4 linked regions of the Homo sapiens genome follow. The protein of the gene in region 1 purifies or fractionates together with the protein of each later gene. This does not show direct contact. Each region holds a gene or a part of one and is shown on either strand. Other genes may lie near its edges.

Region 1 (5,084 bases):
TATGCTTGCAAAAGAACTAGCCCGCTTCGAGAATAGGAAAAATAGTACTGCTGTGCCCTATCCAGACATAATTAGCTATCAGGTTTCTTCCACTCTTTTTAAAATTGTATTTTATTCTTTAACATTTACAGTGGGAGCCATTTTCTCTGTTTTCCCAATCTGTTTTGTCAATTACTGCAATCTTAAGGCTTCCATTTGGTCTTTGTTAAAGGTAGAACAGAAGTTATTAACCCCAGAGTAAAAAATGTTCAGACTAACAGAAACACACAGCGATGGTAATTAACTCTCATTTGGAGATAAAAGAAACAGACACTGCCGTGTGCGGTGATTACAGTCTCCTGCAGTTATTTCTCTCTGCTGCCCTTATCCTCCAGTCCAGGTCCCATTTGGGACCTCTTGGGGATCCATTGATTTTCCGTGGAGTACAAACACCCTTAGGCATCAGGGACCATTGGGAATTTCCTGGTTTCTGTGTGCAGAATCAGATGAATGTGGGGAGAAGGGTGGGGTAGCCTATTCCTTACTAAGACCCCACAATATGCTAGGCCTGAAACTCCTTTACTTCTTACTCTTCCAGTCGATGGTTTGATTCCCATTTTGCACTTCAATAAATTGAAACTCTAATGGGTTAGATACCATGCAAGCTCATGATTAGTTTTAGTGGTTGAGTCAGGATTTGAACTCAGGTCAGCCTGAGTCAAAGACTCCTTTGGTAAGAAGCCCTATTTCTTACCAAGGGCCATAGGCAGGCTCTGAGGTGCCATCCTTAAGCAGAAGGAATAACAGGGTGGGGCACTGAGGGGAGGCAGCCCTACTTTTTCTTCTCATTAGCAGTTTCAGTCCACAGCTGGGAATCTAGGTGGCACTCTCCCCTGTGACCAGTTGGAGATAGTTTTTCGAGGTTTTGTTTTGTTTTGTTTTTTGCTTGTACCATAGACCACAAGGGCAGAAAAACCAAATAGATGAGAAGGGAATCCCAATAGGGAAATTCCTGAGGCGAGATGTGAGGGAATGAGGACTTTGCTACTTGGCAAATTTGAATGAGGTGGGAGCCCACATCCATAGCCTTGTCTGACCTCCCTCAGGTGGGGCTGCCTGGGGCACAGACACACTTTCTACTGGGACATGCTCTGCTTGCTGCTGGGAGGAAGTGGTGGGTCTTGAAGACCATATTGGGGACCAGCTCTGACACTAACTGTGTGATCTTAAGCAAAATTACTCACCCATCTGAACCTGTTTTCTCTCTTCTGTACAATAAGCAATACTTGTCTTGTCCAACCTACAGAGTTGCTAGGAAAACAAAGTACGATCATGTATGTCAGTGCTCTATAAATTGGAAAACGTTCTAGAAATAATTATTATTCCTAAAGTGAGGGAGTTTATCTCAAGGGTCCATCCTTATCTCAGAATTGTTATTACTATAATAAACCTTTTTGCTGAAAACCTTCATTTACTGATATTTACAAATAAGTCCAGCAATGCATTCCTTTGATTTTTATTCCTGCACCTTGGTCTTTTTTAAAATTATTATTTTTTAAACTTTTTCTTTGAACTCTGTTTAGGTGGTGGGTTTTAGTTTAGCGTTTGTTGTTGGGATTGTTATTTTGTTTGGTTTTATTTTTGGCTTGGAGGAGGAAAGTCATTGATTTTACCAAGCTGCATAATTTGTCCGAGCCTGACCCTCCTAACTCTAACATCCCTTATTTTTCCAGATACGGCCTCAAGGTGGACATCTGGGCAGCAGGTGTAATCACTTATATCCTGCTGTGTGGTTTCCCTCCATTCCGTGGGTATGGGCAACAATCTTTTATTCAGCGCCGACAAAGCATTTCTCTACTCTCTGAGTGATCCATTAGCCCTTCTTGCACAAAGGAGCCTGCAGCAGGAAAAGAGCACAAGAACTTTACTTGCAATCCCTGTTATTTTTTCCCTGTTATGTCATGCATGCTAATTTATATGCCTTCCATATTTCTTCCCCATATCATTAAAAACTCATTCTTTCTTTTTTTTTTTTTCTTTCTGGTTTTGAGACAGAGTCTCTCTTTTGCTCAGTCTGGAGTGCAGTGGCACAGTCTCAGCTCACTGCAACCTCTGCCTCCCAAGTTCAAGCAGTTCTCCTGCCTCAGCTTCCTGAATAGCTGGGATCACAGGCGTGCGCCGCCACACCAGTTACTTTTTGTATTTTTAGTAGAGATGGGGGTTTCACCATGTTGGCCAAGCTGGTATTGAACTCCTGACTTCAAGTGATCTACCTGCCTCAGTCTCCTGAAATGCTGGGAATACAGGTGTGAGCCGCCGCACCCGGCCCAAAAACTCTTTCTTAATTTACCAAAACAGATCCACATTGACATTTTTCAATCGATTAAAAATACACATTTTTACACATTTATGGGGGGAAAGGAAGGGCTCCAGTGCCTAAGACTGAAAAGATGTACACTGAGTTGATATCTTAGTGCTGTTTTTCCTTGTTGTCGTTCACCTAAACAGAAGTGGTGATGACCAGGAGGTGCTTTTTGATCAGATTTTGATGGGGCAGGTGGACTTTCCTTCTCCATACTGGGATAATGTTTCCGATTCTGCAAAGGTAGGTGTCCAGTGCCTTCCTCTTCCCTATATTCTGTGTGTCTTAACGGAATTATTTTTCCAAATCATTGTGTGCAAAGAAACTAATGACATCATAAGTATGATTTCTGTACACATTTTAGTTGTAATTGCTAGGTTTTCCAAGATTTCACAGTCATCAAGTCATCTGTTCCCAGACATCCCAACAAGTACTTATCAAGTGTCTCCATCTGCTGCCTTCATCTCTCTCAGGTGCCATTCCAGTGACATTGCTATAGCCTCTTGCTGTGCCCCACCCTCGCCAGGCTTGAGCCCAGCTCAGATTTCTATATGGCCTGTGGTTTCACCTCTCTCAGCTCTTGACTTAATGACTTAATTTCCCAGTGAAGCCTTCCCAGACCATCCTGGTTCCAATTGCATCTCTTAAACCTTACCTGGCTTGCTGTATCCTACTTGTCTGTTTTATTTTTCTCCAGAACACTTAACACCTGTGTGTCCATCTGGTGTGCTATCTAACTACCTATCTCTCTACCCAAAAAAAGATAGATATAAATAAGTAGGCATGTCTTCTTTATATAGTTCATTTCCAGACTCTCTCCACTAGAATGCAAATTCTGCGAAGGCAGGGATTTTTATCTATTTTGTCCATTGCTGTACTATCCCTGCCTAAAGTATGACCAGCATACTGGTGCTCAATGTATACTGAATAAATGAACAAGTATATGAATGAATCCATCAATTAATCAGAAGGAAGAAAACTCAACCTCAACGTAGGTTGAAATCATCAAGAAAGACTTTATGGGGAAGCTATGATTTAAGTTGAACCTTGAATAATAGCCAGGATTTAGAGGCAGAGGGGGAGGAAAACACAAGGTTCATTGTTTTTATCCCATGAAACTAAAAGATCAGTCCTTAACATGGATGAAGGTGATGGTTGCACAACAATGTGAATGCACTGAATGTCAGTGAACTGTGCACTTGAAAATGGTTGAAGTGGTAAATTTTATGTATATTTTACCACATTAAATAATATTTATGATAAATCAACTTCTAAGAAGGCTATAAAAATCTTACATTGAGATGTTTGTAGACCTTGAGGAGAAAAAGGAAAACCTTTTCATTGCTCTTTTTAAAATTTATGTCTCCGAGTGCTGACTTAAATGTTTAAAAATTTGAGAAAAATGTTCTCAATAATTATCTTGAGAAATAATTATCTTTTGATTGCTCAATGTTTATGCCTTTGCTTTTGTCATGTCCTGAATGTGAGTTCCCTTTAAAAGCCAACCCCTCAGACATGACCACTTTGTGTAGAAAATGATGCATATTGAGTGCAAGTCTCTCATTTTCTTCAACTGTCCAGGAAGCTGCCAGAAAGGGAGTGTCAGAGAAAGGCGCAGGCTAAAGGAGATGGGACGATACAGCTGCAGGGCCGGGGGCTCTTCAGGAACCTGTCCAGCTCCCCATGCCATCACTGCAGGATCTGAGGGCTCACAGTTACTGACAAATAGGACCATCTCCTACACCTCCATAGCACCTGCAAAGGGCATCACACACAGCAGATACTTTCACGAGTTCTGATCCAAGTTAGAAACTGAATGAAGAAGGCTGAGTGAACTCTCTCCCTCAATGAAATTAAATCACCCCCTTCCCGAGTGGTACTATAAAGCCTGTGTATGTAAGGAACTGGATAATGCATATCTAACCATTTTGTGACATGGGAACTTCTAATCCAGAGTGGACAATTGTATAGCATACTCATCGTTAAGACCCAGGTAGAGCATTCCTGGTCCAAGTCCATTTGAGCTCATGAGGAAGTTCCATTAATTTCAGGATGATGAAATTGTTTACCTCTCAATAGTTCTATTTTTCTTTGTATTGATTTGTCTGGAAATTTTTCAAGCAATTGTAACATGTTTCTTTAGAATTCTTTAGCTACTAAAGGATCAATTCTATCTTGCCACCCAGAATTGGGGAAAGACCCAATTCTATGTCTTTCCTCATACCTTTCTTTCAAACCTAAGTATGCCGTCTTGAAATTAGGGGGAAATTTTCATTTTTCCTTTCAGCTGCTAAAGTGAAATTTTAAGTAAAGTGTTTTTTTAAATGTGACTTCTATATTAAACTAATTAATAAATCTGTCTTTAACATGCAAAATGCTAGACAAAGAAAGGAATATTAATTCCTTAACTTGTATAATTTCTTTTCTATTACAAACATTTTTATGAAAATGATTCTGATATTAATTTAATTTTTATTCAACCACAAGCTATGTATTTACAATTCCAAGTGCTTACCATTTTTAACTTTTGAAGGTGATAAATAGCCACAGGTAAGTGGAGTTGATGTATTTAAGATTTAGAGCTTTTACAAATGCTTTTCGAAACTAAAAGAGAACTCTTGCATTTGCACACATACAGCTTTTCACCTTAAATTCAGATAAATGGACTCTAACGTTCCCCTTCACAGGAGCTCATTACCATGATGCTGTTGGTCGATGTAGATCAGCGATTTTCTGCTGTTCA
Region 2 (5,084 bases), on another chromosome or scaffold:
CACCCCCACTTCCTGCCAGAAGTCCAGATACCCTGTCACTCCTAGTTGGAAACCAGATGCATATGGCTGGGCCAGAGGTGATGGAATTGGGGCAGGGCAGGCTAATGAGTAACTCAGGGAGAAGTGGCTGTCTGGTACAGGTGTAGAGTGTTCTCCCACTCCTTGCAGGCAGGAAAGGCAGAAGCAGACAGATGCACCTGAATCAACTTGTGGTCTGGTCTCTTCCTGGAGTACAGTTGGTGAGGAGAGCCCTGGACATGTGATAGGGGAGAGAAAAGTAGGGTCAGGCATTGGTGAGGGCGCAGGCCCTGGACTCCATGTTGCCTGGCCCTTGATCACTGTTTACCTGCCTGTCTCTGGGGCTTACGCAAGGCCTCAGAGCTGCCCTGCTGCCTTGGTCCCGCCCCACTGTCCTCTGTAACCAAAGGCGGGTAGGTTTCGGGTTTTCCATGTTGAATCATTTAGAGCCCTGCTTTCTGACCCACCCCAAAGATCCCTTCAGCCCTCCTGGCCCCTGATCCACATGTCCTTGGACTGAAGGTGATTGAGGTTAGGGAGTTAACCTAACCTGGGACCTGGGGGAGTGTTCAACACTGCCTCTGAATAATTTAGTGCTGTTGCTCAAGGGTCTGTGCCCTCTGCTGGGCCTAGGCTGGGAACTCCTTGACCTGGATCTGGAAGATCAGTAGATGTACTGACAGGGTAGACTGCATCATGAATAAATCATATGGCTTCTGAGAGCTGGCAATCTAGGCACTTCTGGTTCTAAGATCATGACTACATAGGGCAGCAAGTCTGGACCAGGAGGAGGTCCTGTTGCTAAGAGGTCCTGTTACTGAGGCAAAGTAGATTTGTCCTGGGCAAATCTCCCCACTGCTGTGCAAGTGGGCTTTAGTTCAGGATACAGCCTTTAACAAATATTTGTTGACATCTACCACGTGTCCAAACACCTGGGGACACAGTGGTTAGCTGCTAGCCATGGTCTTTGCCCTCCAGGAGCTTATTATCTCGTAGGGGAGACAGACAGGAAATAATTACTCCAATAAATGTATAAATATAAACTGGAGTAAACCTGCTGAAGGACAACTATAGAGCGTATAACGTGGATCTGACCTGGTTTGTGGGAGGCTGATTTGTGAGAACTGACCTTGTTTGTGGGAGTGGTGGTCAGGGAAGGCTTCTCTGAAGAAGTGACATCTTTCTATGAACCAGGTGAAGCCAAAAGTGCCTGTTGGACAAAGTAGCATGTGTGAAGGATGATATTTGTTGTCAGCTTTGTGATAGTCACATGCTAAATGTTTTCATGTTTAATATCTTGTTTTTCTCTCCTTTTTATTAAATTAGAACCCAAGTTCAATAAAGTACAAACATCTTTTTTTTTTTTTTTGAGATGGAGTCCTGCTCTGTGACCCAGGCTGGCGGATCTCGGCTCACTGCAGCCTGTGCCTCTCAGGTTTAAGCAATTCTCCTGCCTCGGCCTCCCCAGTAGCTGGGATTCCAGGCGTGCACCACCACGCACAGCTAATTTTTGTATTTTTAGTAGACGTGGGGTTTCACCATGTTGGCCGGGCTGTTATTGAACTTCTGACTTCAGGTGATCTGCCTATCTCAGCCTCCCAAAGTGTTGGGATTACAGGCATGAGCCACTGCGCCTGGCCTAAATAAAGTACAAAGATCTTAAGGGTATAACTTGGTACTTTTTTATCATTGTATATGCCCATATAATTATTTATTATCTCATTCTCACAGATAATAACCTTGTGGGGTATTATCATTATACCCATTTTACAGATGAGGAAACTGAGGCACAGAAAAGTTGTGGGTTTTTTGTTGTCGTTGTTGTTTTTGAGACAGAGTCTTACTCTATTGCCCAAGCTGGAGTGCAGTGGTGCAATTACAGCTCACTGCAGCTTCAACCTCCTGGGCTCAGGTGATCCTCCTGCCTCAGCCTCCTAAGTCGCTGGGACTACAGGTGTGTACCACCATACTCGGCTAGTTTTTTGTATTTTTTGTAGAGATGGGGTTTTGCCATATTGCTCAGGCTGGTCTCAAACTCCCGAGTTCAAGTGATCCACACACCTTGGCCTCCCAAAATGCTGGGATTACAGGCGTGAGCCACCACACCAGAAAAGTTGTGATTTGCCTCAGGTTGCATACATCAGGTGAAGAGCAGAGACAGGATTCCAGACCAGATCCTGACTCTAGCCCAGTGCATTTTCTTCTACTGGATGAGTGGTTTGGAGAACTACTTTACCTGTCTGCCTTCACAAGCCTTTTAAGATGGGGTGATAAAAGTTTGGATGTGCTGTCTCCTCAGGGAGAGTGTATTGCTTTCATCATTTTCTCATGGAGTCCCAGGGCCAAAAAGATGAAGAACAATTCCTAATAAAGGGCTCTTCTCTCCCTGTTCCTTTCTCTTGAGAATTGCTGGGAATTCTAAGAATGCTCTTCTTCAGATAGACCTTCCCCACCAAGCCCTTTGTCACCTGTAGCTCTGCCTCTCCCATCCCTTCCCCTCCCTTCTCATCTCACCCTGGCTTGCTAGCACTTTACAGTCCCTGAAAGGGGCCTTGCCAAGTTTCCTTGGCCCAGAACTCCATGGGGAGGTTGAGTTGGGTATGTTTGTGTTTCTGTCTGGCACGTTAGAGGCTCATCCTCCAGTTTGGTGCTAGGCTCTGGTGGAGACTAGCAGAAGGGGTGGGGAAGCTGAATTTTTTTATTTGCTTGGAAGACAATCTCTCCCCCAAGTTCCTGGAGCCAGAGCATACCTGGAATACATTCCATTTGCTGACTCTGAGCTTTAGCAATGTGGACCTGGGAAGCTGGCCTATGGATGGTGTTGGCTCTGGCTCTCAGCTGAGACAAGTTTACCTGACCTGGGGCCCCTTAAAGTGGCACTTTTTTTTTTTTTTTTTGAGATAGAGTTTCACTCTTGTTGCCCAGGCTGGAGTGCAATGGCGTGATCTTGGGTCACTGTAACCTCCGTCTCCCAGGTTCAAGCGATTCTCCTGCCTCAGCCTCCCGAGCAGCTGGGATTACAGGCCCCCGCTACCACGCCCGGCTGATTTTGTATTTTTAGTAGAGACAGGGTTTCACCATGTTGGTCAGGCTGGTCTCAAACTCCTGACCTCAGGTGATCCACACGCCTTGGCCTCTGAAAATGCTGGGATTACAGGCGTGAGCCACCATGCCCGGCCGAGTGGCACAGTTTTTAAACCACATTTAAATATTTTTGGCTGGGTGCGTGGCTCATGCCTGTAATCCCAGCACTTTGGGAGGCTGAGGCGGGCAGATCACCTGAGGTCAGGAGTTTGAGACCAGCCTGGCCAATATGGTGAAACCCCATCTCTACTAAAAACAAAAATTAGCCGGGCATGGTGGCAGGTGCCTGTAATCCCAGCTACTCGGGAGGCTGAGGCAGGAGAATTGCTTAAACTCGGGAGGCAGAGGTTGCAGTGAACCAAGATCACGCCATTGCACTTCAGCCTGGGCAACAAGAGCAAAACTCTGTCTCAAAAAAAACACAACCTTTTCTTGAATAGATAATACATCTACGTGGTTCCAAATTCAAAAGGGACATAAGAGATATACAGTAGAATGTCCACTCCTTTCTGCTCTTCCAGAGAATAGAAACTCTCCCATCCCTGTTCCTAGTCCTCAGTTCCTCCACCTCAAAGGCATCACTGCTATCAGTGTTTTTAAGTTTCTTTCCAGAAGTGGGATGATATACTTTGAGGTCTTCTATATTTTAAATGAGCTCTGGGAGAGAAGGCCCCCTTTTCTCCAGTGAGATGGAGGTATCTGCTCAGCAGGGTGTGGGTTCTGCCTTCCCTTGGTGGGAGGAAGGGAAGAAGGCACACAGTGTTTTTTTTTTTTTTTTTTGGAGATAGAGTTTTGCTTTTGTCACCCAAGCTGGAGTGCAGTGGCGCAATCTCGGCTCACTGCAACCTCCACCTCCCGGGTTCAAGCAATTCTTCTGCTTCAGCCTCCTGAGTAGCTGGGATTACAGGCATGCGCCACCACGCCTAGCTAAGTTTTTGTATTATTAGTAGAGACAAGGTTTCACCGTGTTGGTCAGGCTGGTCTTGAACTCCTGACCTCAGGTGATCCACCTGCCTCAGCCTCCCAAAGTGCTGGGATTATAGGCATGAGCCACTGTACCTGGCCACATGGTGGTATTATATGTATGTATGAAGATCAAGTAAAATCTTTTTTTTTTTTTTTGAGACAGGGTCTCACTCTGTCACCCAGGCTGGAGAACAGTGGCATAATCACTGCTCACTGCAGCCTCTCTCAAGCTCAAGTGATCCTCCCACCTCAGCCTCCCAAGTAGCTGGGATTACAGGTGTGCACCACCAGGCCCAGTTTATTTTTGTATTTTTTGTAGAGATGGGGTTTCACCATGTTGCCCGGACTGGTCTTGAACTCCTGAGCTCAAGCAGTCCACCCGCCTTGGCCTTCCAAAGTGGTGGGATTACAGGTGTGAGCCACTGCTCCTGGCCATCAAGCAAAATCTTTAAACTTTTAACAAAGCCTAGCTCCCCAGGGCTGTATCAGAGGAAGTGGATTCTTTTAGGTTAGTGAGTCTCAAAGTGTGGTACCTGGACCAGTAGCATCAGTATCACCTGGGGAACTTGGTTAGAAATGCAAATTCTCAAGTCCTAACCCAGACCTACTGAATCAGAAGCTCTGGAGGTTAGGTCCAGCAACCGGTATGTTAAAAGGCTCTCCAGGGGCCTTCTGTTAGTCTGAGAATCAGTGGTTTATCTAGTAGGAACTGACAGGGAAGTCAGCCCGCAGGTAGAAGTTTCATAGTTTCTAGTGAAGTCTCTCAGCCTAAACTCATTTCTTCATCTTCTAGGACTCCTCCTATTTATGGAGCAGGCACCCAACATGGCTGAGCCCCGGGGCCCCGTAGACCATGGAGTCCAGATTCGCTTCATCACAGAGCCAGTGAGTGGTGCAGAGATGGGCACTCTACGTCGAGGTGGACGACGCCCAGCTAAGGATGCAAGAGCCAGTACCTACGGGGTTGCTGTGCGTGTGCAGGGAATCGCTGGGCAGCCCTTTGTGGTGCTCAACAG
Region 3 (5,084 bases), about 12 Mb from region 1:
TTCTTTTTCCAGCTATAAGCTGAAAGACTTCTTTAGGGGATGACAAAATATTTCTCTACATTAAAAGTAGAATCCTTATAATCAGTCAGTCGCTTAACGGGAAAAGGAAAACCTTAATGACAGACTTTTGTGAAAGAAGTTCTGATCTCTTCATTTCAGAGCTTGGGCAGTGATTACATAATGTTCTCTGGCTCCTTGCGGGTGGCTCTGTGGCAGCCACCTTGTCTGACTGCCTGGACTGGGAACAGAATCAGCCTTAATGTGTTTTGCCGAGGGCATTTCCTTTGCCTGGTTGGTTGAAAGAATCAAACCAAGCTAGTTAATGGCCTAGAACTCCTGAACAAGAATTTTTCTTATCTTTAACCCTCCCAGATCACAATATCCCGCAGACCATTGTTTTCCAAAATGTGCTCTTAGGGACCACCTGCTCTGGTTTTAAAATGCAGATTCTGTTACCTTATGCCACAAGAATTCTGATCACTCTAATCAGCTGGCTTATATAACATGCATTCCAGTACTTTTACATTGCTCCTGTCTTTCTATTTTTTTCTTCTGCAGGGTGAGAACTCTCCAGAAACAGTTCTATTACCCCATTTTTCAGTCTTATCTTTTCAGCAGCTATTAATCCTAACAGCCATTTCTATTGATAGTTTTATCTCAACTAGCTTGCTGTTTATTCTTTTCCTGCATTTTCCCCTTAATTGTTTTCACCTTCCTCCTCTCCTAGTAGGCATAAAGCTCTTAGAGCTATAGAGACAGCAAAGATGGGATGTATTTTGGGTAGCAGAAGTGAATTTGAAATTATATACATGTTTTATGCTATAGGCAACAATTCATATATTTTTGTGGCAATACTTTGAACCTTGGGAAATTGTTTTATATTTGCAGATAACAAAATACTTGATGTACTGTATCAGAAGTCCCAGTTTTGTCATTACATAACTACTTGATCTTGGGCTTAAATTTTTAGGTTTTCTGTCTGTAAGATGAGAGGGTAGGACCAGATGGCCTGTAAGGATTCTTCCAGTTTCAAAAATCTATGAAGATGCTAGGATTACATAATTATATTTGGCAGACATTAAATTGTTTTAATTGTGAAAAATAGCAACTACCTCCTCACTCTAACCAGACTATTCCCTTTCTTCCTTTTGGTGTTTAACATGTTACATTCTTCCCTCATATCAAGTAGCAGTGGGTCAAAGAGAAAGGAGATGGGTAGAGGTATTATGTAATAAAGCACATTGTCACTTCTGTTTACCTCACAGTGAACAGTGAAGTTGTCAGCACCTCTTTGTTGCAATGCCTGCTTATGAAACCCCTTTTCCAGTATCAGGCCACAGAATAGCTTAAGCTTGCTTCATATGTATCCCTGCAAGTTGTTTTGCTGACAAATAGTGTTGCTTTCTCTCTACCCCACTTTGTAGATATTCTTTAAAAGGAGAGAGAAAAGTAAAGTGCTGATATAGGAGAGAAAATAGTGGCAGGGTGAGTGCAAGAGAGAAAGTGAAGGCCGACTCACCCAGTAAAAGTTTTGAGTTACCCATGACAAATGGCTGTTTAGACCCTGGTTCTTTACCCTTTCTGGTTTTCCCTATTCACACAATCAAGACTGAAGGTTTTGATAATTAAGCTTTTCGTTTGTGGTGGTGGTTTTGTTTGTGTGTTTTTTGGGGAGTGAGGAGAAGGGACATAAAATGCATGGCTGGCCATTTACTATAATGTTGATATAATGCTCTCAAGGGATTGAGAGCTTGGTTCTCTTTAACCAAAGTGCATCTTATTACCTAGTTATGTAATTCCGTGTTTGCAGATATTGGCCAGTGAAACTTTTACATTACATTTTGGTTCTCCATGAGGATATTAATATCTGAATTGAGGGTTTAGTGCTGGGAAATAAATGAATTGCGTCTGTGCATCCCAAATGCCTTGGCAGGACCTCCTGTGTACACATCCCTGACAGGACACTGCTGTAGCATATTGGGTGTGCAAGGTTGCATATTGCACAGGATTGTAGTCTTCCCAACTAGACAGAAATGAGTATAATATACTTGGCATAATAAGCCTGAGTGACCTCATGGAATTCAACTCTGACATATAAAAGGTTTATGTGACTGGAAGTATTTTTTAAGCAGAAATATCTCAAATACGTTTATGTTACAGGCCTATTTAAATTAATTTAGAATTTGACTTACAAGGTGTTTATTATGCATTTCCAAATCTTGACTTGTGGGTAAATGTACATAGAAACATGTACTAAGTAGTCATTGGGGGAGATTTTATTTCTCTTAGTTTTATCATACCATAACTTAAATGTCTGGCGTGTCTATTCAAAACCCACATTCTTTTTCCAAAAGGAAATACTACTTCCTGAATTCCTAGATTTAACTAAAGCTTCTTGTACTGCTTTGTATGTCAGTGTCAGTAAAGGAAGACTCAGAAAAAAAAATCTTTTTGGGTTACCAGTAAAATCATCCTCTTAAATTTTTTGGCAAACGTGGCATTTTATTAGAGCTTAAAGACTAAAGGAAAAGAAATTAAGGACTTTAGACCGTTACTGAAACCTGTTAAAGGATTTGACAATTCTGAATTTCTGAATGAGGTGATTTTTGCCTAAATGATATACAAAATATTAACACTGGAGCTGTGCTTCACAATGAAAGTCTTTTCCAAAGTAGACAGCTGAAAGTTGAAAATTGGAAATTATAACACTAAGGACATCATTTTTGAAAAATTTCCACTTAATTGTGATTATCCCTTTTAATTAGTACTTACAACACATATTTTTAATAGCTTTAAGGAGATCTACAATACAACCTCATTTTATAAGTGTTATCAACAATTGAATGAACAAGATTATTTTAAATTATTGTGCATTCTTTAAGCTCTTTTATTAGAGGAAAAAACTTTTTGCAGTATTTCTATAATTGTACTTGGGGAAAAATCAGGTAAGAATGAACGTAGACTTTTTATTCTTAAACAGAAAAGTTTGAATCTTGAGTTGTAGCGATGAGGAAATTACCCTTGTTTTTATGGTAGAGATATATTCTGATTTTTCACTTAATGTTTTATCTTTCAGTACTGATAAGTTACCAGCAATAATTTTATGATGTTGAACTAACATAAGTACGACAAAAGAGAAATAAAATTTTCACAGCTTATATATAATACCACTTCTGAGTTAAATATCCTGGACGTTTATTTGGGAAAGTGATACTAAGTATGGTGGTGGATATTTTGTACTTTGAAATTTTGAAATATTTGCATAAACCGTTTTTGGCATAGTTGAATTTCATACTTTAAAAAACAAGTTTGGTGGATTTTTGTGTTTATTTGAATGATTAACTTTAAGGCTCAAATTATTATTTTTTTTTAGTGAAAGCAAGTTTATTAAGAAAGTAAAGGAGTAAAAGAATGGTACTGCATAGGCAGAGCAGTCAAGATGCAAATTATTTTTAAAAGTTGTTTGTTTTCAGAATGAGTTAAGGATAAAGCTTAAGTCTTAACTATTTTCTCTGCTTATATATGATTATAATGTTTTAAATTATTTTATATAAAAATTTTAAAAGATGCATTGTTAATTAAATCACTTGAATCTCTGCAGTATCCAAAAGCAGACCCATTTTTATGCTGGGGAAAATGATTTTTGAGAGCTAGTCTATTTAGCTTTGCATTATCAGTTTTCAGTTTTTCATTTTATATAACTTTATCCAATTCATTTTTTCCTCCCTTTAATACTGGGACATAAAATTTCCTGTCTATCAGTTTTACCTAGGGCCGTGCTAGGCATCTTAAGCAGAGAAGGCAAATTCAGTGTCTCCTGGGCTGAAGCAGATGAATTGTTGAAGCTGGACTTTTTGCATATGAAACAAGTAAGAATATTCTTGGTTTTCCTGCCAGGCGCAAGCCACCGCCTGTAATCCCAGCACTTTGGGATACTGAGGCTGGTGGATCACCTGAGGTCAGGAGTTCGAGATAAGCCTGGCCAACATAGCAAAATTCTGTCTCTACTAAAACAAAAATTAGCCAGGCGTGGTGGCATGCGCCTGTGATTCCAGCTTTTTGGGAGGCTGAAACAGGAGAATCGCTTGAATCTGGGAGATGGAGGCTGCAGTGAGCTGAGATTGCGCCATTGCATTCCAGCCTGGGTGACACAGCAAGACTCTGTCTCAAAAAACAAAAGAATATTCTTGGTTTTCATTTTTAAAACATGAGTCCAGTGTTGCTGGATCCTCCAATTTTCCAAGGCAAGCTAAAAATCAGTACTATTTTAATTTATACAACAATTTTAGCCCAAAACACTGAAGGCATGGGCCACTATTTTATAATCTCCTTTAAAGTGGAACGCAGGACTGGCAAATTATAGCCTATATCTTCAAATACTGCCTGCCTGCTGTTTTTCTGTAGCCCATGGGGTAAGAATGATTTTTATATTTTTTAATGGTTGGGAAAAATATCAAAGGAATGATATTTCTCCTTTTTGCCCAGTACCCTCACTGAATTGTTGGGGAGGGGCTGCTGCTATTCAGGAAGCAGCAGCACTAGCAGAATTCAGGTTATACAGTCATTCTTCAAAAGATTTAAATTTTGTCTCTATCACTTACTTTGATACCTTGGGTAAGTTACTTCAGTTCTCTGTGTCTCAGTTTTTTCATCAGCAAAATAGGGAAAATAATAATCTGTAACAATAATAGCACAATGCCTGGAACAGAGTTAAAAATTAGTAGATTTCAGCTACTGTTATTTTTATTTATTTTTTTGTTGAGAAACAGTCTTGCCCTGTCACCCAGGCAGGAATGCAATGGTGTGATCTTGGCTCACTGCAGCCTCTGCCTCCCGGGTTCAAGTGATTCTCCTGCCTCAGCTTCCCAAGTAGCTGGGATTACAGGCACCTGCCACTATGCCTGGCTAATTTTTTGTATTTTTAATAGAGACGGGGTTTCACCATGTTGGCCCGGTTGGTCTCGAACTCCTGACCTCTTGATCAACTACTATTATTAAAGTCCCAGTTTTCTCTCCTCATCATTCTTGTTTTGGAATATTACTTCTTATATTACTGTTACTGCTTATCCCTGCCTCACATGTCA
Region 4 (5,084 bases), on another chromosome or scaffold:
TGTAGTTAATCCACCCCCCTCCCTGTCACCAATAAACATGTGCAAAAGGCCGGGCGCGGTGGCTCACGCCTGTAATCCCAGCTACTCGGGAGGCCCAGGCAGGCGGATTGCCTGAGGTCAGGAGTTCGAGACCAGCCTGACCAACATGGTGAAACCCCCATCTCTACTAAAAATACAAAAATTAGCCGGGCATGGTACACCTGTAATCCCAGCTACTCGGGGGGCTGAGGCAGGAGAATCACTTGAACCCAGGAGGCAGAGGTTGCAGTGAGCCGATGTGGCACCATTGCACTCCAGCCTGGGCGACAGAGCGAGACTCCATCTCAAAAAACAACAACAAAAAAATGGGCAAAAGGCAGAAAACTCAGCACTCAGAGAAGGGACACAATCTGGTGTTGGAAGCACCAGCTGGGGTGGCGGAAAGGCAGGGCCCTGCTGTGCCCCGACCATATCCTGGGCCAGCCTGGTGACGCCTTCCTTCTACCCCTGCCTGGAGAGAAATGGAACTTCCGAGGGGAAAGAGCGTGAACCGGGGACCCAGCTGCCAGACGGAAATGGGGTCCAGGCCACCAGGAACCAGGGGTACCAGCGTGTGTGAGGTGTGTTGCAGAACAGAAGACACTTCCCTGGGTAACCAGCAGAGCAGTGGGGCCCGCACGGTCCGTGGGCTGAGGTGACAGGCAGAGCAGTGGGGCCCGCACGGTCCGTGGGCTGAGGTGACAGGCAGAGCAGTGGGGCCCGCACGGTCCGTGGGCTGAGGTGACAGGCAGAGCAGTGGGGCCCGCACGGTCCGTGGGCTGAGGTGACAGGCAGAGCAGTGGGGCCCGCACGGTCCGTGGGCTGAGGTGACAGGCAGAGCAGTGGGGCCCGCACGGTCCGTGGGCTGAGGTGACAGGCAGAGCAGTGGGGTCCACATAGTCTGTGGAGTCAAGTTGCCGACAGGGTCCAAGATCCAAGAACTCTGCCCTGCAACTACAGACCGAGAGGAAGACAAACGCCCAGGAGGGAGAATCCAGGCCTCGCTGACCGTATCGGAGCAAAGGGAACACCTGGGCACAGCTGCCTGAGCAAGGACAAGATGCATCTGACTGCCCTGGCCAGCACAGGGCATGCCCATCCACAGAAGACAGAGTCTGACCCGGGGCACACACACAAGAGACAGGCGGGCCAACGGTGCAGACCCAGACCCACAGGCGGGCTCTCAGCTGGGACAACGGTGGCCGTGCGATGCGGGGTGGGGGTGGGGGGCATCCGACTGAAAAAAGTGTGTCTCGATCCCTGCCTCAGGCCTCACCCCAGCTGGAGGCAGCCATTCATGTCAAAGGTAAAACGATGCTTGTAGAGAACATTTTTTTTTTAAATCTGGGAGCAGCAAAGGTTTGTTCAACAGGACCCAAAGTCCTAACCACAAAACACTGATAATTTGGATTATGTTAAAATTAAGAGCTTCTGTTCATCCAAAAATACCACTGAAGGAGTGGAAAGGTGACGTGCAGATGAGAGTGGCTATCCAGGATCACACAGCCGACAAAGGACTCACAGCCAGAATCTATATTTTAAACACTCCTAGCAAGCATTGAAAGAAATTCAACCTAAATGAAAAAACAGACATAAGACTTGGGCATTTTTCTTCTTTCTGTTTCTATTTTTTTTCTTTTTTTTTGGAGACAGAGTCCCACTCTGTTGCCCAGGCTGGTGTGCAGTGGTGCGATCTCAGCTCACTGCAACCTCCGCCTCCCGGGTTCAAGTGCTTCTCCTGCCTCAGTCTCCCGAGTAGCTGGGAATACAGGTGCCCGCCACCACACCTGGCTAATTTTTTTTTGTATTTTTAGTAGAGATGGGGTTTCACCAAGTTAGCCAGGCTGGTCTCGAACTCTTGACCTCTGGTGATCCATCCGCCTCGGCCTCTGAAAGTGCTGGGATTGCAGACGTGAGCCACCAGGCCCGGCCGACTTGGGCATTTTTCCAAAGAGGAATTTCGCATAGACGTATGAAAAGGTGCTCAGTCATCAGAGAAATGCAAAGGCAAACTACACACCACAGAAGGACAGAGACAGCCCCGTGCTGAGAGGGAAGATGATGCAGCCGGGGCCTCCAGCTTTGCTGGTGGGAGCACCAAGTGAAAAATGCTTTGCGAGAATCTACTACAGGGAAACCTGTGCAGACATTTGCGTGCCTGATACCCAGCGATTCACACGCATAGGGACCTTTCAACAGAAATGCAAAGGATGTGTACTAGGAATGTTCATGGCAGAACAAACCATAATAGTCAGAAACCTGAAACCACCCAAATGCCCGTCACCCGCAGGATGGAGAATAAATCACGGTAGAGTCACAAAAGGGATGTCACCACCATGAGAATTAACACCCCACAGCCTCACACAACATGGGAGAGTCTCTTTCACATAACGGGGGCCAGAGACACAGTCACAGAAGTGCACATTGGCCAGGCGCAGTGGCTCACGCCTGTAATTCCAGCACTTTGGGAGGCCGAGGCGGGCAGATCACCTTAGGCCCGGAGTTCCAGACCATCCTGGCTAACAAAGTGAAACCCCGTCTCTACTAAAAATACAAAAATTAGCCAGGCGTGGTGGCGCACACCTGTAGTCCCAGCTACTCAGGAGGCTGAGACAGGAAAATCGCTTGAACCTGGGAGGCAGAGGTTGCAGTGAGCTGAGATCGTGCCACTGCACTCCAGCCTGGGCAACAGAGCGAGACTCCATCTCAAAAAAAAAAAAAAAAAAAAGGAAAACTCCAAAACTAAGAGAAAATTAGGAGACAAAAATAACATCTTTACTGAACTAATCAATAAGTTAGAAACAGCTAGAACAGTTTACTGAAATCAAAATTACCAACAAATAGGAAAGGCATAAGATAATCAGAAAAATTCAGGCCGCGCACTGTGGCTCACACCTGTAATCCCAGCACTTTGGGAGGCTGAGCTAAGCAGATCACCTGAGGTTAGGGGTTCGAGACCACCCTGGCCAACATGGAAACCCCGTCTCTACTAAAAATACAAAAACAAATTGGCCCAGTGTGGTGGCAGGCACCTGTAATCCCAGCTACCTGGGAGGTTGAAGCAGGCGAATCACTTGAACCTGGGAGGTGGAGGTTGCAGTGAGGTGAGATCACACCACTGCACTCCAACCTGGGCAACAGATTGAGACTACATCTAAGAAAAAAAAAATACATACACACACACATACACACACACACCTGGAAACTCAAAGAGTACGTTCATACTAAAAGTTTAACACAAACATTCAACTCTGAGACATGGTCTGGTTAAGCAGAAGAACTATGAGACAAAAAGAAAGAATTCCTCAGAAATTCATGAAGGGAAGGACAAGCCTCCACATGGGGAAAAATCAGCTGACCTCAGGCTTCCCCACAGCACATGTGAGCCAGGGGATGGTGGAATGACAGCTGCAAAGTGTTGGGGAAGAAAATAAATCTAAGAGTATTATACCCAGCCAAGATATCTCTACATTGTTCAAAGATAAAGACCATGGGCAGACATTCTCAGACACAAAAAAACACTCAGGAAATACTCGAGTCCTTCTGAAAAAACGACTGATAATGAAATCTAGGTGATTAAGAGGGACAGCACAATGAACAGAGACATAAATGGTAAAAGGACTTTGGTGAGCACTGACTGTATTTAAATGTTGAATTGATACTAAATCATTGCGGGCACTACAGCCACAATACAGAAGCAAGGGCTATAAACCTGGACAATATAAAAATAACAGCCTGGGCTACAAAACTCAGGAGGAATTGGGTGGAGGGAAATGGAGTGTGGAGTTACGAACGCCCTCATCTTTCTTTCTTTCTTTCTTTCTTTTTTTTTTTTCGAGACAAAATCTCACTCTGTCGCTGGGCTGGAGTGCAATGGTGTGATCTCAGCTCACTTCACCCTCCACCTCCTGGGTTCCAGCGATTCTCCTGCCTCAGCCTCCCAAGTAGCTGGGATTACAGGCACGCGGCACCACGCCCAGCTAATTTTTGTATTTTTAGTAGAGATAGGGTTTCACCATGTTGACCAGGCTGGTCTCAAACTCCTGACCTCATGACCCGCCCACCTTGGCCTCCCCAAGTGCTGGGATTACAGCTGTGAGCCACTGCGCCCGGCTGCCCTCACCTTTCAATAACAAGCACCTATAGTGTTTCTCAGCGAAACATGTCATTAAAAAAAAAAAAAAACATGGCCAGGTGCTGTGGCTCAGGCCTATAATCTCAGCATTTGAGGAGGCCAAAAAAGGAGGATGGCTTGAACCCAGGAGGGTCAAGGCTGCAGTGATCTGCAATCACACCACTGCACTCCAGCCTGGGCGGCAGAGAAGACCCTGTCTCTGAAAAAATAAAAAACAAAACATAATGATCTCAACTTCTTACTATTTTTCAGAATATCTTTTCTTAACTCTAAAACAAATATTTGGTAAATCAAAAACCTGCAAGGGTACACCCGTGATATCAGTTTTTTCTACAGCAGCTCAGGCCAAGTAGACAATAAAGCTCTTGATGGGATTTTTTTTTTAAGACAGAATTTCGCTCTTGTTGCCCAGGCTGGAGTACAATGGTGCGATCTCTGCAACCTCCGCCTCCCGGGTTCAAGCAATTCTCCTGCCTCAGCCTCCCGAGTAGCTGGGATTACAGACATGTGACACCATGCTCGGCTAATTTTTGTATTTATAGTAGAGACAGGGTTTCTCCATGTTGATCAGGCTGGTCTCGAACCCCTGACCTCAGGTGATCCGCCCGCCTTGGCCTCCCAAAGCCGGGATTACAGGTGTGAGCCACCGCCCCCGGCCCGGTGGGAGGTGTATTTTTAGCCTAAATCCTCCCTCCGTGTCAAGGGAAAGCCTTTATTACAAAGCATTGGACCATTGTTTTGGTTCGTCCTCAGTTCGGCATGTAGCAACCAAAAGTCACGCAGCAGAAGCATCCCCGAGCCTCCATTCAAACCAACCAGAAGGAAGTTTCACAAACATTCTGTGCGTGACCCTTCTCACACACGCCCCACGGCACTCACCTTCAATCAAACTCAACACTGTCAACCGTCTGCTCCCCCAAAACACGCACAG

What was found.
Region 2: the proteins of DCLK1 (region 1) and CGN purify together in Homo sapiens (affinity purification with mass spectrometry, with the first as the bait; one large-scale study listed by BioGRID). This does not show direct contact.
Region 3: the proteins of DCLK1 (region 1) and ITM2B purify together in Homo sapiens (co-immunoprecipitation; one large-scale study listed by IntAct). This does not show direct contact.
Region 4: the proteins of DCLK1 (region 1) and RAB40B purify together in Homo sapiens (affinity purification with western blotting, with the first as the bait; one study listed by BioGRID). This does not show direct contact.

What each region holds. Positions count from the first base shown.
Region 1 is NC_000013.11:35,805,724-35,810,807, reverse strand, and holds part of DCLK1 (serine/threonine-protein kinase DCLK1), read left to right. Parts: intron 1-1,712; coding exon 1,713-1,790; intron 1,791-2,487; coding exon 2,488-2,584; intron 2,585-5,028; coding exon 5,029-5,084.
Region 2 is NC_000001.11:151,513,645-151,518,728, forward strand, and holds part of CGN (cingulin), read left to right. Parts: intron 1-4,861; 5' UTR 4,862-4,875; coding exon 4,876-5,084. UniProt on the Homo sapiens protein: Probably plays a role in the formation and regulation of the tight junction (TJ) paracellular permeability barrier.
Region 3 is NC_000013.11:48,235,464-48,240,547, forward strand, and holds part of ITM2B (integral membrane protein 2B), read left to right. Parts: intron 1-5,084. UniProt on the Homo sapiens protein: Plays a regulatory role in the processing of the amyloid-beta A4 precursor protein (APP) and acts as an inhibitor of the amyloid-beta peptide aggregation and fibrils deposition. Plays a role in the induction of neurite outgrowth.
Region 4 is NC_000017.11:82,691,357-82,696,440, forward strand, and holds part of RAB40B (ras-related protein Rab-40B), read right to left. Parts: exon of another isoform or gene 5,033-5,084; intron 1-5,032. UniProt on the Homo sapiens protein: RAB40B small GTPase acts as substrate-recognition components of the ECS(RAB40B) E3 ubiquitin ligase complex which mediates the ubiquitination of target proteins.